5 separate regions of the Homo sapiens genome follow, and all the other regions are linked to region 2. The links come from fine-mapping of genetic effects on gene expression. A gene starts in region 2. Each other region holds a variant in brackets. All regions are shown on one strand. Distances are from middle to middle.

Evidence for each region. PIP is the estimated chance that this variant, and not a neighbour inherited with it, causes the effect.
Region 1: its variant is the best candidate, but not a certain one, in a credible set for the expression of RPS6KA6 in fibroblasts (GTEx, PIP 0.82).
Region 3: its variant is the best candidate, but not a certain one, in a credible set for the expression of RPS6KA6 in sigmoid colon (GTEx, PIP 0.52).
Region 4: its variant is the best candidate, but not a certain one, in a credible set for the expression of RPS6KA6 in blood mononuclear cells (TOPMed, PIP 0.51).
Region 5: its variant is the best candidate, but not a certain one, in a credible set for the expression of RPS6KA6 in visceral fat (GTEx, PIP 0.57).

What each region holds. Positions count from the first base shown.
Region 1 is chrX:83,875,290-83,880,398 of GRCh38, reverse strand. All of the region lies in intron 4 of CYLC1 (cylicin 1), which reads right to left. Among named protein-coding and RNA genes, the nearest start is that of CYLC1, 17 kb to the right of the region's middle. The variant A/C (reference allele first, on the strand shown) is at 3,162.
Region 2 is chrX:84,185,672-84,190,780 of GRCh38, reverse strand. It overlaps RPS6KA6 (ribosomal protein S6 kinase A6), which reads left to right and starts at 2,582. Exons shown (of 22, transcript NM_014496.5): 1 at 2,582-2,962. The coding sequence starts at 2,882.
Region 3 is chrX:84,241,992-84,247,100 of GRCh38, reverse strand. No RefSeq gene overlaps it. Among named protein-coding and RNA genes, the nearest start is that of MIR548I4, 19 kb to the right of the region's middle. The variant A/G (reference allele first, on the strand shown) is at 2,920.
Region 4 is chrX:84,234,667-84,239,775 of GRCh38, reverse strand. No RefSeq gene overlaps it. Among named protein-coding and RNA genes, the nearest start is that of MIR548I4, 11 kb to the right of the region's middle. The variant T/C (reference allele first, on the strand shown) is at 2,907.
Region 5 is chrX:84,738,744-84,743,852 of GRCh38, reverse strand. It overlaps the pseudogene TEX16P. Among named protein-coding and RNA genes, the nearest start is that of HDX, 240 kb to the right of the region's middle. The variant G/A (reference allele first, on the strand shown) is at 2,151.

The DNA of each region.
Region 1 (5,109 bases), 310 kb after region 2:
CAGTGCAATAAAACCTTGATTGTCACAATGCTCAATTTGGACATCGATGACAGTTTATTATTTACTAAGGACTAGTTTTTGTTTTAGTCCCTGTTAAAAACTACTCTGTGGAGAAGATAATTTTCACTAATACGGACAGCCAAGAAACAACCAAATAAATTATAGACGTATTTGATTATGTAAAAATTTAGTATTTGTGCACAGCAAAATACACTGCAAAATAATTAATAGACATGAAAGCTAGGGAAAATACAACAAGGAAGACAGATGAAGGAGTAATACCTATAATATGCAAAGATACTTTAATAAATGCAAGAAACATACAAATAACCCATGTGAAAAATGGACAAAGAATACAAAGAAATAATTCTCAAAAGATCAAACGTATGGCACGACAAACATTCAAAAGATATTTAAACAAACTAGCATTTAGGAGAATGCAAATTAAAGTACCAATGAGATATCATTATGCATCCATTAGAATGGCAAAAGTTAGGAGGAGCTGTAACAACTATTGCTGACCAAGATGCAAAGATGTATTATTTCTTTATTTTAAAATAAAACAATAAGAAAACCTCACTTCCTCCTGCTCCCAGCTGCCATACACTTTCTCTTCTGCTGCCAGATGCTACCACTGTGTGCATGTGTGTGTGTGTATGTGTCTGTGTGTGTTTGAATGTTTGATATGGTAAAGTGAACCTTAGAAAGACGTATGGAATGAAACATAGTAAGTTGTTGATAAGTGTTACCTAGAAAGGAGAAAAAAAGCGATGGGTGAAAGTGGGAATGAGAAGTAGAGAGATAAGCAAAAATAAAAGATGGAAGGAAAACAAATCACAATGTATGGTATTGACACAAAATTCTGTGTGTGTTTTCACAAGCAAGTTGGAAATAAGAACAATAACAATAGATGTATGTCTAACGACTTATATGGATGACCATGATATTGTCAAGTGAGAAAATAAGTTGTACTTTACTGCATGTGCATGATTGTATTTTGGTCAAAACAAATTATGTAATTCTCTCTCCCTCTCTCTCTCCCTCCTTACATTTGCTTGTACAAGGAAATGGTGTAAGAGAGAAAAATGGACCCCAGGCTGCTAACATTGTTTACCTCTAGAAGATGAGAAAATAGGGGGATTTGGCATCAGAAAGTGGACATGAGGATCTAAATGATTAGCTTTTCTTTACGTATTTTATATTGTTTCTGTTGTTGTATTTGTATTTTTGTTAATAAAGATTATATATACACATACAGAATGGAAAACAAAACACCCTAAACATAACACCCTACTTTTCTACCTTAGCATCTGGAATATAAAGAATTCTTCACTTACGTTTGAGAATATTGCTAAGATTTATAAACATAATATCAAATGTAAATAATCTTAATCCAGGAGTGTAAACAGTGCTGACCCTGAAACACAGCACTGCTTATGTGGTTCTTACGTGCTTATGTGCTACTGTGAGAATCACTAGGACTCCAGTGGAGGAGAAAAGGAGAAAAGCCATCATTCTTCAAGCCCATATTAAAAAAAAAAAAAAGGAAGGAGAAAACTCCATAAGATTCAATAACAAAGTTTGTTCATAAGTTCCCCATACACAATTGAGCAGGATACATAGGTATTCTCTTCCAGACATCCAATTAGAATATAAAGTGCATTTTTGTGACTACCCTCACTTAAAAAAATACTTGTTTTAATGACATATCTAGAGGAAAAATGCTTGGAAAAAGGGATATCCGAATGTCTCCTACTGTGATATGTAGCTCTTTAGAGGGACCAAATTCTCAACCAACTAAATATAACATAGGTGCTGTTTTTGAATCTGTGGACATATATTAAAATATATATTTTCATATATATAGCTGCTGTTTTTGAATCTGTGGACATGTATGAAAATATATATATATTTATATATATTTATATATATATTTATATATATTTATATATATTTATATATATTTATATATATATTTATATATATTTATATATATTTATATATATTTATATATATTTATATATATATTTATATATATTTATATATATTTATATATTTATATATATATTTATATATTTATATATATTTATATATTTATATATATATATTTATATATTTATATATATTTATATATTTATATATATATTTATATATTTATATATATTTATATATATTTATATATATATTTATATATATTTATATATATATTTATATACAAATATATATATTTTATATATATATTTATATACAAATATATATTTTTATATATATATTTATATACAAATATATATATTTATATTTATATACAAATATATATATTTTTATATATATATTTATATACAAATATATATATTTATATTTATATACAAATATATATATTTTTATATATATATTTATATACAAATATATATATTTATATTTATATACAAATATATATATTTATATTTATATACAAATATATATATTTATATTTATATATATATATATATTTATATATATTTGTATATATATATATATATATGAAAAAACAGGCTAGATTCACTGCCTGCATAGAACCTGAATTCTGATGTTGAATATAATTAACAAACAAATGAATAAAATATAATTTTATATAAATATAAATTCAGTGAAGCCAAATAATGTATGATGCAGTGTTCGGAGGGTGACTGCATAGTGGTGGATGAGAGGGTAACATAAAGTAAGGTAGTCAGGGAAGGCTTCTCTAAAGAGAACACTTAAGCTGAAAAACTAAATAATGAAAAGGAATAGACATGCAAAGATCTGTGGGAGGAATATTCCAATCAGAGGAAACAGCACATGAGAAGGCTTTGCAAGAAAACAATCTTGGTGTTTATGAGAAACAAAAAGAATGCCAGTTTGGCTAGATGACAAGAGAAAAGAGAAGAAGTGCTACATGATTATGGTGAAAAATGGGTAGGGGCTAAAGATTGTAGACACTGGAAGCTAGGGTAAGAAATTTTATTCTGCCAGACATGGTGGCTTACACCTACAATCCCAGCACTTTGGGAAGCCAAGGCTGGAAGATTGCTTGAGCCCAGGAGTTCAAGACCAGCCTGGGCAACATAATGAGTTAATGGATAGCTAGATGCTAATGATGGTGATGACTGGAGCAACGAAGGTGGTAGTAATGGAGATAAGGA[A/C]AGTGGATTCAGTCAGGACATATTTTGGAGGTAGAGTAAACAAGTCTTGCTGATGGATTACCTGTGTAGGGTGAGAAAAAGAAGTGAGAAGGAGATTATGTCCAGGCTTAAAAAAATCAACTGGCTGGATGGTGGTGCCATCTGATAAGATGAAGACAGCTAAGGGAGGAATAGAATTTAGTGTGGGGTTAAAAATATTATTTAAACATTTTAAGTATGAGATGCCCAGTAGATACTATAGTGGAGATTTCAAGTGGAGAGATTTTGGAGCTCAATTAGAAGGTCATAACTGGAGATATTAATTTTGGAATCATCAATACATAGATAATATTTAAAGCCATTTAACGCTATATACTCACAAAGGGAGGACTGTAAATAAAGAGTGTCCAGGACAAAGACAGGATCATTCCAATTTTTAATAATGAGGCAGAGAAGGATACAATAAAGGTGGTTAAAATCTACCAGTATGTAGAAATAAAAACAGGAGAGCACAGTCATAGAAGTGAAGTAATGGAAGTATTTCCAGACAGAAAGGTTAGTTTAAATGCTGTTGAATTATGAAATAAGATGAGGAGGGAGGAAAAGCCTATAGATATGGCCACAAGAAGGTATTTGGTAACCTTTAAAGGAAAAGTTTCAGTGGAGTAGTAGAGACAGAAAAGCCTAACTGAATGGTGGCAAAGCATATGGAAGTTTATTAAAGAGACTTGGCATGAATTGTACAAGCCTAGAACATACCCTGAAAGATAATTTTTTAATTAAAATTAATCCTTGTATTCAATTTTTTTCTTATATTTTATTTACTTTTCCTAAAAACTGCCTGTGGAAAAGAGTCTAGCTATTTGAGAGTCTTTCTTCTTACTTATCTTAAAAATTATTCCCCAGTGTACTTTTATTTCTTATAAGTATTGTCACACTAGTGGTTAGCCATCCATTAACTCAATCTGGTGGAGAAAGAAGATATCACCTAGAGCAAGGGGGTCATTAATCAACTTTGAGTCTCAAAGCAGAGTTTTGGGGTCTGCTGGGAGAAAGCTAGACTTGAAACCCAGGCTTTCTGAGAGTGATAAAAGATGTTTTTATCTTCCAAAAAATATTAATATATGAGAAGTAAATTGATGTACATATGTAAAGTTTTATTATAAACCAAAGATAGAAAATATTTGGAATATAAGATAAAATAGATCTCTCTGAGCCTAAAAGAGGAAATATAAATTTCTTGAGTTAGAAGAACAAGAAGGTGACAAGGGGGAGAAATGAGGAGAAGAAAGGGAGGAGGAAATTAATAAAAATGAGAAGTTTAGGGTCAAGAACTAGCTGTATCTACAGAAGCCGTGAGTTTAACAGGTCAGAGGGCAGCAGTCCTACGATGCTTAGAATAAACAATGAATACCATGCAAGCATAGGAAACAAAGATTGATGCCCAGAAATCATGTAAATGAGTTACACCCAACCAAAAATCATAGAGACAGAAAGGGAGGAAACATGTAGAATAGGGACTTGATATGGTTTGGCTGTGTCCCCACCCAAATCTCATCTTGAATTGTAACCTCCACAATTCACACATGTCGTGGGAGGAGCCCAGTGGAAAGTGATTGAATTATGGGGGCAGGTCTTTCCTACACAGTTCTTGTGATAGTGAATGAGTCTCAAAAGATCTGATGGTTTTAAAAACGGGAGTTTCTCTGCACAAGCTCTCTTTGCCTGCTGCCATCCAAGTAAGATGTGACTTGCTCCTCCTTGCCTTTTGCCATGATTGAGAGACCTCCCCAGAAATGTGGAACTGTGAGTCTAATTAAACCTCTTTCTTCTGTAAATTTCTCAGTTTCAGGTATATCTTTATCAGCAGTGTGAGAACTAATCCAGAACTCCTCTGTCTAATGTAATATGTCTATTTATGCTTTCCCTTACAATCAGACTATTGGGGAAGGGATTGAAGGGAAAGACT
Region 2 (5,109 bases):
CATATTTTCCAGTATGTTTATAGCAGCACCCCACTACCTTGGTACCAATTTATTGTATTAGTCTGTTTTCATACTGCTATAAAGAACTGCTCAAGACTGGGTAATTTATTTAAAAAATAGAGGTTTAATTGACTCACAGTTCATCATGGCTGGGGAGCCCCAGGAAACTTACAATCAAGGCAAAGGGGAAGCAAGGTACCTTCTTCACATGGCGTCTGGAAGAAGTGCCCAACAAAGGAAGGAAGAGCGCCTTATAAAACCATCAGATCTTGTTAGAACTCAGGCACTATCATGAGAACAGCATGGTGGAAACCACCCCCATGATTCACTTACCTCCACCTGGTCCCTCCCTTGACACATGGGGATTATGGGGATTATGGGGATTCAATTCAAGATGAGATTTGGGTGGGGACACAAAGCCTAACCATATCAGGTATGGATGGGATATGGGAATACCTAGAACGCTGAAAAAGAAAGAGGGTGGGACTGAACCTTGAAGTTCCAATAGGCAGAATTGGGAAGAGGAGGGATGATCCAGTAAAGGAGACAGAAAGATGTATAAGAGAAACAATGATGTAGGAGAAAAACAAACATTATTTCGTTCCAGAGGCCAAGTAAAGAAAATGTTTAAAGAAAGAGTAAGTCATGAACTTACATCAAATGCCAGCAAGTGTTCAAGCAAGCTGTCAATAACATGTTTTTGCTGACGGGAGAGATCCAGTAGAGAGAAAAAAATAGATGATGTTAGTGGGGGGGCGGGTTGCAGAACAAAGCCTTTGAGTAGGCAAGAAGGGATGGATGAGACCCAGCGCTCAAAAGGTTGGCAGTACCAGGCACAGCAGCTCAGGCCTGTAATCCCAGCACTTTGAGAGGCTGAGGTGGGCGGATCACAAGGTCAGGAGTTCGAGACCGGCCTGACCAACATGGTGAAACCCTGTCTCTACTAAAAATACAAAAATTAGCCGGGCGTGGTGGCGCACGCTTGTAATCCCAGCTACTCGGGAGGCTGAGTCAGAAGAATCGCTTGAACCCGGGAGGCAGAGGTTGCAGTGAGCCAAGATCGCGCCACTGCACTCCAGCCTGGGCAACAGAATGAGACTCTGTCTCAAAAAAAAAAAAAAAAAAAAGAAAAAGAAAAAAAGTTGGCCCTAGTTAATACTGTCAGTTCAGCCAAATATGAGTTTATGGGTGTGTGCGTGCACACACAGACACACACACTCTCACACATTTTCACGATTTATAGCCCCATGCACCCACTACTTTCGAAGCTTTGACTTTTAGAGAACCCTGTTCGTTAAGCTCACTTTCTCCTCGAGATTTTCAGCAGAGTAAGTGAGAGGACATTATCAGTTATCCTTGTTTGTAATTCAGTGCAATCTCTGTGGCCAGCTTTGCTTCATTAGCTCTTGAGACCAGATGATGAAATAAATGGAGGGCATAGGTCAACAGCCCTAGGTGTAGAAGGGTAAAGGGGGTGGTGTGCCTTTTATGAACGTTAGAAACCTCTCCAAGGTCCTGAGTTGGTTTAGCCGCTGTTACAGTTGCTCTTTTAAGTCTTTGAAGTGTCAAATGTGGAATAACTTTTAAACTTTCAGCTCTGAAGTGTTTTGATGAGAAGCATCTTGATTATCCCCCGTATAAGATTATACTTTATCTCTGTTATATCGCCAGCTCCCAGTACAATGTGTGGCTTAGAGTAGCGAAGTAGTAAAGCTCGCTTTGAAGAAGGTACTAAAAACTATGATTATTGTCACTACAGACCCAACATTCTCAGAGGGGGCTGGAGGATGGGCTAGCTTCGGAATCATGCCTTTGTTGCCACAAGTGGAGTTCATTAAGTGGCATATGTTTGCCTGTGTGTGTGCATGTGTGAAGAGAAACATTGTGTGTTATCAATAGTGTGAAGGCAACCAGCAGGAGCATCCTGAGAGGGACAAGTAAGGTGGGGGCTAGAGAGGACAGGTATATTTATTTTTTTAAATGGGGGTTATCCTGCCTTTACCTTCTAGGAGGATAATGTATGATGTACTAAAATCCCTGCCCTAGTATTTGTCACTAAGTATCGAAATGGGCGTGGTTTGGCATATAAGACACCTGCTCTTCGTGAGCCCTGCAAAGAGATACTCTTGGAGTCCTACCCTTACCCTGATTCCTCAAGTGCTCTGGAGGGTCCCCCAGTTCCAGCATCCTTTTTGAGAATCCTGCCGCCCGCCAGCAATGCTGCTCCGTGGACTTGAGAGGGCCTGCTGAGCATGTGTGAAGAGCGCTGCGCATGCTCCGTGGAGTGGGCAGGTTTACCGAGGCGCTAGCAGGGGCTTTTACTACTGTTCAGTCGCCTCCCCAGCCCAGCACGCCCCCCTCCCCTCTATCCCACCACCCACCACGCGGTCCCCCGCATCCACCCCGCCCCTCTATCCCGCCCCCTTCACCCCAAGCTGGGGAATCTCCATTGACGTTTGGGTGACGCCGCTGTGCCGCCGCCGTGGGGGGGTCCAGGCGCCGCACAGGTAACGCCGCCGCTGCCGCCATATTGACAGAGCAGGGAGCGGGGAGGGGACCCGAGGAAGTGGGGTGTTGGGGGAGTCACCACCGAGCGGCTGTCGTTGTGGTGGCAGTGGTGAGCGCGAGCCGAGCGGCAGCTCTTGGAGAGGCAGCACAGAGTTGTCTTCTCTATGGGAATCACCGGGCGGCGGCGGCGGCGACCCCCAGCTCCCAGCCTCTGAGAGACCCGGCGGCGAGGGCAGCGCTCGCTGAAGGCGGGGCTGGGGGTCGCGGCGGCGGCGGCGGCGGCGGCGGCGGCGGCGGGCCAGTTCAATAGACAGGATGCGCGGCCGCGCCAGCGGTAGGCGGCAGCTCCTGTTTGAGTGCTCCTGAAGGGGAGATGCTACCATTCGCTCCTCAGGACGAGCCCTGGGACCGAGAAATGGAAGTGTTCAGCGGCGGCGGCGCGAGCAGCGGCGAGGTTAGTGTGGTGGCCAAGACGGGCTGGAGCCAACCCCCGCCTCCTTCCCCTCAAGACCTTGGCTGGGGACGGAGAGAGGAGAGGCGTAGGGCCGGGAAGCGGGCTCCCGGGCAAGCCCCCTTGATGCTGCCTCCACTGCCCTTTCGCTGGGGAGCGGGCGGGGATGAGACGGCGGGCTCGGGCTTGCGGAGTGAGTGCAGCCTGGGCCCGGGCTCGGCCTTGGGCGGAGCGCCTGCCTGGCGGGCCACGCCAGAGTTGTTGTGACTAAGTTTCTTCACTTTCCGACCCGAAGGGGAACTGGGGGACTGGCGGGGTGCTGTGCCTGACTCCGCGCGTCCCTTTTTCTCCGCCGCGCCTAGTTTGCTGGCTGGGAACATTTTGGGGGACAGCTGCGGACTCCAGCTCGCTGTTGAACCCCGGACGCTTTACGAACCCAGTGCAACAAACACACCAAGGTGACTAAGTAACTCTGGGGACATTTGCACATAGGCACGAGTGTTCCCTGGTAACAGCTTTCTCGTTTCTCTGTGGCTTGTTATGGTTCCTTGTAATGACCCATGTCGAGATACACTGGCGACCTATCTCCAGTCGCCAGGTTTCAGGTGATGTTCTACTGCTTCCTCTCAGGTCCCCTTGATTCTACTGCACTCTTGCTCCACCCCTTCTCCTTTCCACAACCGCTGTCCCTGCCCCGTTGGTCTGTAAAAGAAGACGCAAAGTAAACCCCAGCCCTTATAAATAAGTCGAATCTTTGGTAAGACTTAGCGAGGTTCAACCAAAATACTTTGGTTCACCTCTCTTCCCACTCTTCTTACTCTGAAACTGTTCTGGTTGGGCTTTGGTCAGCTGTGCAGTGAGAACTTAGATGTACACAGGTGCTTTGTTTTTATTGTTGTTATAAAAGCGGGCAGCATTTAAACACAAAAACGTGTCTTTTGTGATAGAAAGTTGGATCCTTTTCTGATAACTTAATCGACTGCGTACTACTCCAGTAGAGGCCACCATACACCTCCTAAAAATAGTTGGTGAAATTGATTCACAGTAGGATATTTTGAGGTAAGACTCTCAATCCTCGACATCTAAAGGGTGCAACTTTGTCTTCAAGTACTTGCTCCATTTAAAAAAAATACACATTTGGCTGTTGTATGATTACCTTGTTTTTTTTTCTTTAAATTTTTTTGTTATTTATCAACTAAACTGGGGTTAAGATTACATGCTAGAATAACATGTGGTAAGGAATATAGTGGAAATAAATTCAGAAGTACCCTAAATCTGAACCCTCTATACTTACAGGAAATATTTTACTAGTAAACCAAGCAATTCCAATATACGTTTTAATATTTTACATCTCGTAAGAACAAGATAAATGAATAGGCGTTCCTTTCTTGTTGAAATGTGGGAATGCTAACTGTTTGCACAATTGTCTAGCAAGTCTATTGAAGGGGAGAGGAACTTTGTTATATTCATGTATGTAACTTACTGAACTTATAGGCATTTAGTTTATAAAAACAGTTAAATGCTTTGATATAAGGATGGGATGGGAGGTGGGAATCCTTTTGCATGCCTACTATTTTATTATTTCTGTTAACTTTGAATGTAGTATGTTTTAAATTGTAATTACCACATATGGTTTTTTTATTGTTTGCAGTATGTTTTAGGTATTGTAGAGATTTAACAATGGGTCTCTCTACCTCAGCAATTTGGAAAAATACTCGAGTGGAAATTGTTAATCCCTATGAAGTAAAACGAAAGGTGAAGGTAATGTGGTGAAGATAGTATTTCTGCCTTCTTTCTCTAAAACAGTTATGATTGGTTAGATTTAACCCTGCAAGTTACTTAATAAAAAATATTATAGGTGAAAACTAAATGCTACATTTGAACAGACCCACTTAGTACTTAGAAGAGTTTGTTTGTTTTTAATTATATTCTTTTGATAAGAAGTAAACAAGTTTACTTTTGATAATTTATATTTTAATTACAAATTTGTTGATGTTGGCTTTAAAAATGCTAATTTTGAGTACAAGCTCTACAACCCTCAATTGTGATAATTTTAGGACTAAGAGTGTTTTTGTTGTAGAATATATATTTTTAAAATGTGCTAGAATCCTTAAAGAAAATGTAGGTAAGAATCTGTTAACTTTAATGTC
Region 3 (5,109 bases), 56 kb before region 2:
CCCATTCTCTGCAAGAAAGTTGAAACTGCAAAAATTCTTTATACTTTCCTTTTAGTTATTCAACCCTATACATAAGCATTTAGATCCTGTGAGAATGAAATTCTTTTACTACTTCAAAACCAATGGATGATTTATTGAACATTTATCAGCAGATAGAACAGCTAAGAAGTCATTATCTAAATTTTTCCCTTGTCTCACATTTCCAATCAGAGTGCTTGCTAACAGCCAGTGCACTCGGAACTCAACTTTACCAGGAACTCAAGGCCTCAGGTCATATTGCGAAGCAAAAATACTAGAATGTTAGCCTCTGAATAAATTTTGATATTATCTAGTCCATCCTCCTTATCTTAACCAATGAGAAAACTTAGCATCAGACAGATTATACCAAGAGTTATTGAAGAAATCAACAAAGTGAAGCGACAATCCACAGAGTGGGAGAATATATTTGCAAACTACCCAGCTGACAAGGAATTAATAACCAGAATATAAAAGGAGCTCAAACGACTCTGTGGAAAAAAATTATTACCCAGTTATGGTGGCTCATGCCTGTAATCCCAGCTCTTTCGAAGGCTGAGGCAGGCAGATCATTTGAAGCCAGGAGTTGGAGACCAGCCTGGCCAACATAGCGAAACCACATCTCTACTGAAAACACAAAAAATTAGCCAGGCATGGCAGCACATACACACCTGTAATCCCAGTTACTCAAGGTGCTGAGGCATAAGAATTGCTTGAACCTGAGAGGCAGAGGTTGCAGTGAGCCGAGATCATGCCGCTGCACTCCAGCCTGGGCAACAGAGTGAGACTCTGTCTCAAAAAAAAAAAAGGAAAGAAAAGAAAAGAAAATATTGATCTGATTAAAAACTGACAAAAGATTTGAATAGACATTTCTTAAAAGAAGGCATACAAATGACAAACAGGCACATGAAAAGGTGCTCAACATCACTGATCATCAGAGAAATGCAAATGAAACTACAATGAGATACCTTCTCACCTCAATTAAAATGGCTTATATACAAAAGATAAGCAGTAATAAATACAGGAGATGATGTGAAAAAAAGGGAGCCCTTGTACACTGTTGATGGGAATGTTAAGTAATAAAACCACTGTGAAAAACAGTTTGGGAGTTCCTCAAAAAAACTAAAAATTCAGCTATCATATGTTCAGCAATCCCATTGCTGGGTATATATGCAAAATAAAGGAAATCAGTATATTGAAGAAATATCTGCCCTCCTATGTTTATTTCAGCACTATTCACAGTAGCCAAGATTTGGAAGCAACCTAAGTGTCCATCAACAGATGAATGGATAAAGAAAATGTGGCACTTATACACAATGGAGTACTATTCAGCCATAAAAAAGAATGAGATGCCATCTTTTGCAGCAACATGGATGGGACTGGAGGTACTTGTGTTACATGAAATAACCCAGGCACAGAAAGACAAACATCATATGTTCTCACTTATTTGTGGGATCTAAAAATCAAAACAATTGAACTCATGGAGATAGAGAGTAGAAGGATGATTACCAGAGGCTGGGATAGACAGCGGGGACTCTGGCGGTGGGGGGGCGGGGGGGTGGAAGTGAAGATGGTTAATCAACACAAAAATAACAATTAGAAGAAATGAATAAGACTTTGTATTTGATAGAAAAACAGGGTGACTATAGTCAAAATAATTTAATTGTACACTTTAACTAAAAGTGTATAATTGGATTCTTTCTAACACAAAGGATAAATGCTTGAGGGGATGGACACCCCTTTTTCCATGATGTGATTATTTCACATTGCATGCCTGTATCAAAATATCCTATGTACTCCATAAACTTATACACTGACCTATAAAAATTAAAAGTAGTTTTTTTAAAAAAATAAATGCAAGAAATTGTTTCAATAAACGAATTGTAGTGGCTCGCATCTTTAAAGTAAAACAGCATAGAGCAGTACTCTGTAACTGCATTTAATTGGAAATAGTGATAATCTGAATCAAAATTTGGATTTTCAACAGCCTAACCATAAATCTTCCAGAGACTACACAAGTAAATGTAAATAATTGCTCTCTCTCAAGCTTCCATATATCTTCTGGAATCTAAGTTAGATTGATCATGATCAACCTTTCCGTCAGAAAGGTTTTTTGTCTGTTTTGTTGTTACAGATGTTCAGCTCAACATAATCTCTGTGAAAAGATATTAAATTACACCTATTTATTTTGATCTAATTTTGGTAAGTGTATACAACAGAATGCTCAACTCTCTGCTAGGTACTGTGGGGGAGGGAAGAAAACCTATAAAATAGTCACCCTCATTTACACTGGTCTAGCATTTTATCATCTATAATGTGCTGTAACACCTATTATCTCATCGGACCCTCTGATGATCTCTCTTATCCCGAGCTTTTAAGTTTAACAAAACAGGTTTTGCCTTTATTTTACAGATATAAAAAGGGAGGCTATGAGAAGAAATGAGACTAGAGTCCAATAGCATTAAATGTTTGTTTCCCAGGGATATTTGAGTTTCTTAGAGGTCTCAAGATATCTTAAAAACAAAACAAAACAAAACAAAATACTTTCCAGATCCTAAAGAATTAATCTCTAATGGTGTGATTTCCAGCTAACAGAAAAGACAGGTTCTGAGACAGAAGCTATCTTCAGATTGCCATACTTGGGCCCAAGACCTAGCTTCACACCCCAACTATCATTGACCTATGTGTCCTCACCTCAGACTGAGTGCTGCTCTCCTGCTGCTTTCCATCTGTTTAGGAGCCCCTTGTAATATACATTCTGGTGCAACTTGTTCTCTAAACTTTGTTTGCTCCCTTTTCCTACCTAATCAATATTGCTCTGTCCTGTGCCTGTGACCTAGTCCCTTAGGGCACTTTGTTTTTTGATAATGTATCTCTCTAAGGTGTTAATAAATGCTAACAAAC[A/G]AATGCATCACTATCCCAGGGAAAGTAGTTTTCATTTTAACTGGAGCTTTTCAGAGAACTGTGCTTTATACTGTTAATGTCACTCTCTGGACAAAATCTTCAAAGGCTCTTCATTGCTAATCAAGTTAATTCCAAATGCTTCAATCCTGGGGAATAAGGCCCCCAGAATTTCATCCCATTCTAAACTTTCTAGGCCAGTTCTCCCAGAAATCTACCCTGTGTGTTCAACGAATTAAACCATTCCCTTTGCCCCATATGTTTCCATGTTTCCACTTCAAATGGTATCCTGTCTTCTCCATAAATACTTCCCTAATCTCTGACCACTGTCCCACTATCAGCCTTTAAACTTTTATCAACTAACCTTTGAAGGACTTTAGATTAGCTGTTGAAGGATTGAGGGAGGAATTGAAACAAGCAGCAAGATGAGGAGTGCCCACTAAACTAGAAAGGTAGAAGGGTTTCAGAGATAAGCTTTGCCAATATCATACTCTTGCCAGGGACTTTGCCTGGAAATGGATGTCTAGTAGTCACTACTTGGAAAACTTTGTCTAGATTCAGCTGACTCTGAAAAAGTAGGCCCATGGGTATCAGACTGAGGAATATAAAAAGTATGAAGAATATCCTTAGAGTGAGGAAAACTGAGACCTCTAGAGAGGAAGTGACATGCCTAGAATCATATAGCTAGCAAAGTGGCAGAATTGTTGCATAGTTCACTGCTCTTGAAGCTCCCTATGGGAAGAACTTTACCCTGTGAAGATATGCCTTGTCTGTGTACTTAGAGCCTTTGCTCACGTTTACCGCACCCCCCAACCTTTTGGTTTTCACCCATGCCCTAGAGTTTCCCTTGTAACTACCTCTTAATCATTCTACTGCCAGCAATTCTTTTAAAGCAGTATTCCCTTTCATGCAATAACATCTTCTCAAATCACCTCCCTGATAGGAGGTAGTGCCACTAAAAACCCTTTTATTTATTGCTGTAGTGCACTTAAACATCTAATGAGTCAGATTTTTTATTTTTGTCCCTACTTTCCAGGGCCTGGTGAAGTATCAAGTTTTAGGAATATTATATAGTAATGGAATTTGACTAATCAATAGCTGACCTTGACTCAGAATTCCACATATCTTACCTCTGTCTTCCAGTACACATTCTTCCTTTGCTTTTCAGATTGTGGATTGGTAACTCTCATAATCACACCATCAGTTGGGGAGGTGGGACTATGCATACAATGTTTGATGAACAGCCAATATAAGAGAATTAAAAATAATGAGATTTTGGATTCAGAAATTATTGAGCTTTATGCTTTAATTTTACATAATATGTATTGATTATCTGCCTTGAAAGATGAGGAAAATAGCACTCTTATACTTCCTATACTCTCTTCCACCACTTCCTGATTTTTATGAGATTTATATTACTCATGTGCATTATGTTTTTATTGACACAAATTTAATATTTATCTTTTACGTATCCATTAACATAGATTTATGATTATTGCTTTATGCATTTGTCTCTCATGTTATATAAGAAACAAAAAGAGGAGTTACAAAACAAAATATAATAATACTATCTTTTATATTTACTTGCATAGTTACCTTTACCAGAGATCTTTAATTTTTTGTATGACTTTGAGTTACCATATAGCTTCCTTTCATTTCAGCCTAAAGGACTCTCCTTAGCATTTCTTGTAGGAGATATCCAGAGACAAATTCCCTTGCTTTCATTTATCTGGGATTGTCTTAATTTCTGCTTCATTTTTGAAGGATAGCTTTTCCAGGTGTGGTATTTGGTATTTTTGGTGACATATGACCCAGCAATTCTACCCCTGGATATATACCTAAATGAACTGAAAACAGGTATGTGACTTGCACAAAGCTAAGGAAACAAATTGAGAACAACAACAACAACAAAAACCTCACTATTTGAAAATGAATAAACTAGAAATAGCAAGGAATTGAGCAGAATTGCTTAAAATCAAATTAATAAAAGAGAAAAATTCTGAGATAATCACAGCAAATTCAGAAGATAAAGACAAATTAGATTCAGGAGAAAATAATAAAGACGGATAACAAAGATGATCTAGTAAGGAGAATGCTAATAGAGAATAACCTCTATTCTACAAATAGAATAAAGGAATTATTAGAAGGTATAACAGCAGGAAAATTCCTTGAACTAATGACAGAATTAAATAT
Region 4 (5,109 bases), 49 kb before region 2:
TATGTGATTACAAATGAGCTATGAGCCAAGGACACTGAAAGATCCAGGTTTAAAATGGCTTTAAAGAAATTGTCCATACCTCTGCAAGTCCGACACATTTCAGGGAGCCAAAAAAAGGGCAATAAATTGGGTGGGGGTAGGGTGGGCAGAGAGGGGAGAAACACAGTAAAACAGCCAGTGGAAGAGGAACTGGGGCATGGAAAAAGCAGCAAACTTGGGAAAATAAAAAGAATGGGTTCAGCAAAAAGATAGACCCCAAAAGTTGATACTAACATGCAGGAGACTTTTAAATGACTATTATTTTACACTTAGAGCAGGGACCAGATGAAAATAGAGAGGAGTGAGTCTACCATCTCTCTCCCTGGCTCTCTGAAAATGGCAGAATGTGCATATAAGCTTTTTAATTTCTTTTAACTGTGATCCACACCTGTACAACCACACCCAGACAGTAGGTTAAAATCAAGCAGAAACAAAGAGCTGCTGCCCTCATATTAAAACTAATTAGACTTGTACATCTGTGATCCTCTTGACAACCTTCAGGCCTCTAAATCTCTGGACCCTGCTTGCCTCCAGAACCAGGCTATGCCTTAACTTAGGCCTGTACCTTTGCCCAGCAATCTTTTACTTCATCTAGCAGGGCATATTAAAGAATTAGAATGCTGTAGACTGGAAACTGAAAATTTTTCTGCCCATATTATATTTTTCTATAATTTAAGCTGAATCAAATCAAGGGGGTTTAGAGAAATAATTGTTGACTGGATAAATACATGAGTATGTTCATTTTTAATTTTTTTAGCTATTGCTTTTTGCAAGATCAAATTTTACAGTCACATTAATGAGGTGAGGGATAGTTCTCTCCCAATCTAACACGCTTGGATTCCTTCCTACCTTTCATTGGTTGCCTTCCAATTTCCTCTACCTCCCTCTAATCTTAGTGGGCCTTAGATAATTTCCCCCATTACACCTAAGGAAATAGTTGTACAAAGCTGAGGCCTTAAAATCCTGACAGGAAAAATAAAACTTGAGCTAAGAAAATTGATTTACTGAAGTAGTTAATTCAATATACAGGGAATGTTACTACAACTTACATCCTTTTAACAGCTATAATTAGAGCTTGAAAAGTTTTGCCTGGCTGTTTTAGTGTGTAATTTGTGATTCATTCAATCAACCACCATTTATTGACTGCCTACCATGTGCCAGGCTCTGTGCTAGGTAGGCACTGTGCCAGTTACTACAAGGAAAACTTCATGTGGGTATTATTATTATTAAATTTATTTCAACAGCTTTTGGGGAACAGGGGGCTTTTGGTTATATGGATAAGTTCTTCAGTGATGACTTCTGAGATTTTGGTGCACCTATCACCTGAGCAGTGTATACTGTACCCAATATGTAGTCTTTTATCCCTTATCCCCCTCCCATCCTTCCCCTGAGTCCCCAGATTCCATTATATATTCTTATGCCTTTGCATCCTCATAGTTTGGCTCCCACTCGTAATTGAGAACATATGATATTTGGTTTTCCATTCCTGAGTTACTTCACTTAGAATAATGGTCTCCAAGTCTATGCAAGTTGCTGCAAATGCCATTATTTCATTGCATTCTATGGCTGAGTAGTATTCCATGTTGTATATATACCACATTTTCTTTATCCACTCATTGGTTGATGGGCATTTAAGTTGTGTGGTGTGTGGGTATTATTTTAAATGGAGCTACTTGAGAAAAGATTTAATTGTTTTCCTGTGATCCTCTTTACACAATCTATTGCAACATCTGGTCACCATTTCATACCTTTTGCCTTTGGCACAGTATCTTGCTACCACCTGGGTCCTACTCTGTGAAATGTCTTTCTGTTCCTGTTTCTATGGACAACCGGGGATGCTTATTGTGGTTTTTATGAATGACAATTATGTTCTACATGGGATGTAGTCCCAAGACACCTCTAGTAGGGACTGGCTTAGTATGGGAAGTTCTGCCAAGAGTTAATGCCTTTTTATCCTGCAATTCTTGTCCCCTTTGGCCAATTACATGTGGTGGGGAGTAGACTAACAACAGCAGACCTCTTTTGTGGTATACTAATCCAAGTCCTGAGTTATATTCTGGGACAAATAAGCCTGAACTTGGAGTAAGTAATAAGGTAAATGAACAAGAAGCAGTAGGAGCATGAAGGGACAAAGAGAGAACTATTTTGCCTAACAGCCATGTCTCCAAGACAGAATATGAAATGAGATATCCCAATCTTCAAATCAGAAAGGCAAACCCTATATTCTATTCTGATAGAGCATTTGCCCAAAGATTTAGTTAGATCCAGAAAAGTATCCCAGAGTCCTGTACATTGCTTTAACTTCAGTTTTGATCCCTGTATAGTCTTACTCTCTTCTGTAAGGTTCTTGTTTTTCCATACCAGGTGAGGTGATGAAAATTGGAACTCCTGGTCTAAGAATTTCAGACATATGAAATATTCCTACTGTGGAGGCTCATCTGGGTGTATCAGAACTTAGGGTACTATTCTTAGGCTCAGTTTTTACCCTCAGTTTTCCCCATGTCTTATCTATAGACGCCACTTTTGTCCACGCCAGTTAGGATGTCAAGTTAACAAATTCTGCTTGCATGTTAGGACCCTGCTTCGGTATGTACTCTTGTGCCAAGCCTGAATTAAACTCACTGCTTATTTTAACTCTGTCCATATCCTGTTCCCTCTGTTTTACTGTGACACCTGGGTCTTTGACCTTAGTTTTTCCCTTTGGATCCATTATACACTTGAGCTTCTCATTCTGTAGGACTTGATTTCTTCTTCTCCATTCTCCTCATGTTGCCTGTAAGACTTACTCTCCAGAGTATTCTTTCTGCCTTACTGACACACAGAGTTGTCTATTGGAATTGGGGAAGGCAGGTCCAGGGTCTGGACAG[T/C]AGGCACAAGCCAGCAGCTTCTTGATTTTTGAGGCTAAGTCCTTCCCTCAGCTAGAAAGCTGACATGTTAGACAGGGTTAAATCAGAAATGGCCAGGAATTTGGGAGTTCTGACTTATGATTGGTGAGGACAGAGATTCCTGGAGTCCTGCCACTCTTAGAAGGGTATAAATGGACAGCACTGAATTAAAACCTTCACAGGTGTAGAGAGAAGAGAGAGTGGCCACCATAGGCTCAGGAGCAAATAGCAGGTATCAGGTAAGACTTCTGATTGCTGTGGTATATAGACTGGCCTGAGTCTTTCATCAAGAGAATGTGGGTGAGTGAGTGTGTGTGTGTGTGTGTATTCTGGGCACTGAAAGCTCATCAAGAAAGTCTCACTGAAATCACAGCTTTCTTTCCTGGAGCTGTATATTGCTTCCTTTTCCTTTCCCCCATGCATCACACCTGCCACATGAGTATGTTGTGCCTGAAGACTTGGTGTTTATAGAAAGGTGGAGTCTTTTCCTGAGGAAGATGGTTTCTCTAGGGGAAATTAGAACTGATAAACAATAATTACATTCAGCAGGCCCCATTACGGAGAAAGCTGACAAAAGAAGGGAGGGTGAAAACTTCTGTTCCCAAGCCAGGTAGGACTTGGAGGGAGCAAGCAGAGAATTGAGAACTTTGTGCCAAAGCTGAAGAAGTCTTGAGGGTGATACCAGAAAGGTTGGCATGAAACCTACTTGGATAATAATCCCTTATACTTCTACAGTGCTCCATGCTTTGCAAAGTGCTTTTACATTCATTATTTCACTGAGTTCTTGCAGCGTATTTGTGAGGTAGTTAGATGTGGTGTTTGAGGTAAAGGAATTTATGCAACGTCACAAAATAAGTCGGTGGCAGAGGTGTAACTAAAAAGCAGGGCTCCTGATTTCTGGTCCTGTGCCCTCCCACTGCAGCAGGCTGACTGCCTCTGGATGAAGATGAAGGGCCAGCTTCTCTGTGGTGAGCAGTTTTTCAAGAATATTCTTAAAACAGGCATGAAAGCAGCAGAATGAAAAACTAATTTGTCACTGGTTATTCCTGGGGACTTGGGCTACTTTGTCTCAGTACACTTGATTAGCTTTCCAGAATTCAACTTTGCTTTCTTTAGCAACAAATCTATCCTTTCTTTCCTAACAGATAGCTGCTAGTTATTGGTTTCTCAAATAAGAAAATGCCCATTTCTGCTGTTCGAACTGATAACCTTGCTAAACTCACACAGTTTTCTTCTTGCAGAGTTTTGGCAGTGAACAGAAGTCTCACACCCTTGTGAGGGCCACTAGGCTGGTTTCTGATCACAGCCAGTCATTTGAAGCATGGCTGCAATTTCTAGGGGACACCAGGTTTGGCACTCAGAAACTCAGAGACTCAGATTGAGCCAATAATCTCTCTTCAAATAATTATCTTTAAGCTCTGCTCTGGTTGTTAAAGTGAGCTGTAAAATGGGCACTTTCTCTCTCCAAGTCAATAGACAGAGCTGTTCCTAGAAAATATATATATATATATATATATCCAAACACACACATATGTATATATGCAAACACATAAACATCCCATTCTTCTTCTGCAGCCAGGCCTATCCTCTGTTCCAAAGCAAAACAGCCAGAGGTGGCCTTGTCTTTTCTCTATTTCATACATGTACCATCAAGCTGACCTCTAAGTGATTCTTCTACTCTCAGACTTTCCACGTTATTCCCTATAAACCAAATGTTGAGAGAGAGAGAACACAGTGTGATTTCTCTCAGGTCTTCAACCTACTAGAGATTACCCAGCCTTTAGGCAACTTACTGAGAACAGACATACCTGAACAGAGTGTCTACCCACTCTTCCCTTTTACAGTTTTAATGTGGCCCTTCAATTTACCCACAACTGCAGGAATAGCTCAGATTCTCTCCAGAATCAAGCAACTGCCTGACTGTAGAAAGCAATTTGGCAGTTGCCCTAACTTGGACTTTCTCTAGCTCCTGAGATAGGTCACTATTGTGTAAAACTAAATGAGAGCATATTATCATAGTACCTGAAAGATTAAGTGAAATTTCCTAAAAAGTGTATCACGTATAGTCTGGTAGTGACTTACACTCCAGGGAAACTGATTATATTACTTTATCCATCATGTGCTTCATAGTTTAGTTAATGAAAACACTGCTATTAATTGATGATTTAAATACATGCCTTATCAA
Region 5 (5,109 bases), 550 kb before region 2:
GAAAAGTATGCCTTGGCTTGGTAGACAGAACTGGTTGTGTATGCTAAAAAGATGTACTATTTTGTTATTCTCAAGCATCCATACTCTTAGGGTCCCAGCTAGGGCTGCTGTTATAAGTGGTTGTTAAAGGGTGTTTGGTTTAAGCTGGGAGGCTTTTTTTTTTTTTTTTTTTTTTTCCCAGTGTAAGAGGAAGCGTTTTCTGTTTACTAAGATTCATGTGGGAGTGTTGTTGGATGTTGGGATGAGACCGTCATGGGTGGTGTGTATAGGGATGGTGTATGGAGAGGGGAGCCAAGAGAAGAGGGATAAATAGGGGAGGTGTCAGCCATTACAGTACTCTGAATTTTTGTTAAGGAGGTGGGAGGTGTCAAGGGCCTTTATGTGGTTTTTGGAGGGCCTGGTCTGACTGTTTGTGGAGGAGATGGCAGATGGGGGAAAGTGTTTGGAGGTATTCCCCTGATTGAGAATTAGAAGGAGGCCTATTTTGTAAGAGGAAAGGGCGTCTATACATTAATTTAAATGGGCTGAGGAAAGAGAGTGCCTTTGGGCTGGCTCTGATGCAGGCTAGAGCTACGGGTAGGAGGAAAGTCCAGGGCCTCTGGAGTTCTAGAGTGAGTTTGGTCAACTGAGTTTTAAGGATTCCATTTGCCCTATTGACTTTTCCTGATGATTGGGGTCGATATGGGATATGAAGGTGTCACTGGACGCCGAGGGACTGGGAGACCTGTTGGGTGATTTGGGAGATAAACCCAGGGCCATTGTCTGATCGAATGGAGTGAGGGAGACTAAACCTAGGGATGATTTTTGTGATAAGGATCTGGGATACTACTGTGGCTTTTTTTGAAGAGGTAGGAAATACCTCCACCCACCCAGAGAAGGTGTTTGTAAGAGTGAGAAGGAATTTTGTTTTTTTGACAGGAGGCATGTGGCTGAAGTATATTTGCCACTCTTCTCCTGGGAGTGCTCCTCTTAGCTGGTGTGTAGGAATAGATGGGGAGTGGAGGGCTCTTTGAAAGGAGGTGACAGAGTATATATGACAGTTTGAAGTTATGTTTTTTAGTGAGGTGAATAGGTGAGGGGAGAAGAAATATGGGCAGAAGAGGAGATACAGGGGACATGCACCAGCACGGAAGGATTGGTGGAGAGATGTCAGGATTTTGTCGGTTTGGAGCTGGGGAAGGACTAGCTTCTGGTCCTTAACTATCCTGTCCCCCTGGAGGAAGGTTCCTTGTTGTAGTAATAAAGCCTTTTCAGTGGGAGAGTATTGAGCTTGGATTGCAGGGGTAATGAGGAGGAGGGAGGCAGGAGTGGAAGAAAGGGAGGCCTTTTTTGCTGCCTCATTGGCCTTTCTGTTCCCTCTTCAGATTCCCTTTCTGTTCCCTCCTGAGATTCTGTTCTCTGCTGCCTTGTTGGCCTTTCTGTTCCCTCTTGAGATTAATCTGTTCCCTCAAAGGCCTTTCTGTCTCTGTTTGATGTCCCCGACAGTGTATAACTCCTGCCTCAGTTGGGAGATGTGCAGCCTGAAGGAGTTGGTAAATAAGGGGCCGTTAGTGATAGGCGTCCCTTTGGCAGTGAGGAATCCCCTCTCTTGCCAGATGATGGTGTGAGAATGAAGAATGTGATATGCATATTTGGAGTCTGTGTAAATGTTGATCCATTTGCCTTTAGAAAGGGTTAGGACTCTGGTGAGAGCTATGAGTTCTGCTTTTTGAGAGGAGGTTCCTGGAGGTAGGGGCTTAGCTTCAATTACTTGGTCAAGGGAAACAACCTCTTACCTAGCAATTTTGGGAGAGCCAGTGGGCCCAGAAGAGGAGGCATCTATAAATAGTTGGTCATTGGGGTCGGTGAGAGGCTCAGAGGAAATGCTTGGAAAGTGTGGCTGCAGGTGATCTAGGATGTCAGTGCAAGAATGAGTAGGAGGGGAAGGGGATACGGGGAGTAATGATGCTGGCTTGAGGGGAGCACTTTTGGCAATACTGAATTCGGGATTTTCGATAAAGAGGGCATGGAATGATCGAATCCGGTAAGGAGGAAGGGAGCCTAATGCTCAGGAGAAGAGGAAATCCTGTAGATTATGAGGACTGTAGACAGTGTTATTTTGACTGAATGTTAGTTTCCTGGTTATTTTTGGACCTAAAGTGGCTGCTGTT[G/A]CTAGCACTCTAAGACAGGTTGGCCATCCTCTGACTGTGTTGTCTAATTGTTTAGAGAGGTAGGCTACAGGGGCAAAGGAAGGAGGGTCTTCTTTCTGCTGCCCTAAGATACTGAGGGCTATTCCTTGGCTTTCGGCAGTATAGAGAATGAAAGGTTGGGAGATACTAGGTAAGGACAGAGCTGGTGTAGTGACAAGAGCAGTTTGGAGTTCACGGAGCTGGGGAGTATGTTATGTGAGGAGTTTGGGGATTAACTGAGAGGGCCTTTTGCCACTTCATAGAGGGGGTGAGCTAGGAGGGCAAAGTTGGGAATCTATATTCTAAAGAAGCCTGCTAGTCCTAGGAAGGAAAGGACTTCGCTGTTGGAGGAGGGCAGGGCAGATTATTTATCTATTAGTGCCACTTGGGTTTGGGTCATAGCCCGGGCCCCAGGAGAAAGTTGAATTCCTAAGTAGGTCACCATGGAGGTGGAGAGTAGTGTGGATTTTTGAAAGGATGTTTCTGCCTAGGAGTAGAGTTGGACATGAGGGCAGGACTAAGAAAGAGTGAGTGAAGGAAAAGGTGTGCAGGGAACAGAAGAGTGGAGGGGTGGCTCGGGGTTTGGAGACTTGCCCATCAATTCCTACAACAGAGACCTGGGAGGACTTGGTGGGTCCTGAAAAATTAGGTAAAGCAGAGTAGGTTGTCCCAGTATTGAAAAAAAAAAACATACTGGCCTACCTGCCACCATCAGGGTTACCCTTGGCTCGGATGAAGAGATGGTAGTTGCCAGGGCGTCCGTTCCAGGGCACCATCAGTCTTCAGTGGCAAGGCCGATGAGATCTGAGTAGGAGGTTTTGGCCAGTTCAGGAAGGGATGGGGGCAGTCCTTGTGGGGGCCACTCACAGTCTGACTTCCAGTGGCGTCCTCCGCAGAGGGGCACAGCCTGGTGGGCTTATCTGGGTTAGGGCATTGTCTGGACTAGTGGCCTTCACTGCCGCACTTGAAACAGGCACCAGGTGGAGGTGGATTGCTAGGAGGCTTCCATGTGGAGCTGCGCCCTGTTGCCTGCAGGGCCCCTGATGGCAGAGGCAAGCGTTTGAAACTCTGCCTGTTTTTGCCTTTCTTTCCTCATCACGATTGTTAAAAGACTTTGAAGGCTAAATTAAGAAGGTCTCGTTGTGGGGTTTGAGGGCTGTCGTCAAGCTTCTGAAGCTTGTGCCGAATATTGGGTGTGGATTGGGAGATAAAATGGGTATTAAGAACAATAGTTCCTTCCTGGGAGGCAGGGTCAATGTGGGTATATTTTTGGAAAGCCTCTGTAAGGCAGAAAAGGAATTGAGCAAGATTTTCATCTGGTTTTGGGAAATTTCTTTAAGATTTTCAAAATTTACAGCCTTATGGGCAGCTTTGTTAATGCCTGCAGTGACGCAAGTAATTATATGGTTATGGGATGCTTGGCTGGAGTTTGTGGGTTGGTACTCCCAGGAAGGCTTTTCCCAGGTAACAGCAGCGGCTTCTACAGGCTTAGTAGGATCTTGCCAATGAAGATCATCAGCTTGTGCCTGTGCTGTGAGCCACACTCTTTTCTTCTCTTCTGGAAGGAGGGTATAAAAGAGGATAATGTAGAGATCATGCCAAGTGAGTTCATTAGATTGGGTAAGATATTTAAATTCTTTGATATAAGTATCGGGATCAGAGGAGAAGGATCTGAGACATTTCTCAATTTGGGAGAGATCGGAGAGGGAAAAAGGGACATGGACATGGATGATCCCCTCGACTCCTGCTACTTCCTGGAGAGGAAGCAAGGGAGCTGGTTGCTGAGCATCTTGGGCCAGAGAGGAGGTGAGGGGTGGAGAGAGAGAGGACTCAGAGTCAGAAGCAGGGTGGTTGGAGAGAGGAGGGGAGAGAGGTAGAGCTGGAGTGGGGACATACGGTGGAGGATCATGATGCTCTGGTGGAGGATCATGATGCTTTCAGGGAAGGGGAAAATTGGCAGGGTCGAAGGAAGAGCAGTCTTCAGCTGGGGCTGTGGGGAGGGGGGCAGGAGGCAAGTCAGGTTTGGAGTGGGTGAAGAGGATTTGGAAAGTAGAACAGGACTGACAGAGGGAAGAGTGATTACAGAGAGTGAAGAAAGCCTGAACATAAGGAATCTCAGACCATTTCCCATTTCGATGGCAAAAGTTGTTTGTCTTTAAGTACATTGAAAAAGATAAACCTCTTAGAATGGATTTCTGAATGGAGGCTGAGAGCATGGAGATTGCGGAGGAGACACCCAGGGGGGTGGTCTTGGAAGGGGTAGATTGAGAGGCTCCTATAGTGAATGGAGGAGGGGAGGGTAGGGGAAGAAGAGACTGTTGATGACAAGGACGGTGGGAGAGGGCGTCCCCTTTCCCATGGAACTTCTCCAGAATAAAGGAGGTAACCACCGAGTCAGGCATCCCTGAAATGGAGGAACTGGAGGCTCAGAGATGGGAGGAAGCCCTTGGCCCAGCGCTGGGTCTTTTGGAAGTGGAGAGATGGATGGTCAAGGGTTCTGGGGAATGGCAACAGTCTCTTTTCACTCACCCTGGTGGAGGCTTTGATGGTGGATGAGGTTGCCAGCAATGGGAGAGTCTAGGAGATTCTCTGGGTCTTTGGCAGGTTTGGGAAAGAGGAGATTGGCCGGGAGAGGGGTGATAGGGGAGGGAGGGGAAGAGAGAGAGAGAGAGAGAGAGAGAGAGAGAGTGAGTCCCAGCCAGAATCTATTGCCTTCCCGGGTTTCGGCACCAGAATATAAGGTCAGCCGAGAGAAAGGATGAGAGAGGGACCCAAGGTCAGGCGAGGAAGTTTATTAACCTGACAGCTGCTCCATCACAGAGGAGGCAGCTCTGAGCATACAAAATGAGGGGTTTACATGAGGGAAGAAAGACCCTGGGATTGTTTGCTGGTTAATTTTGCCACATATTACCTTGTGACATTTATTACAGAAGGGTGTAGG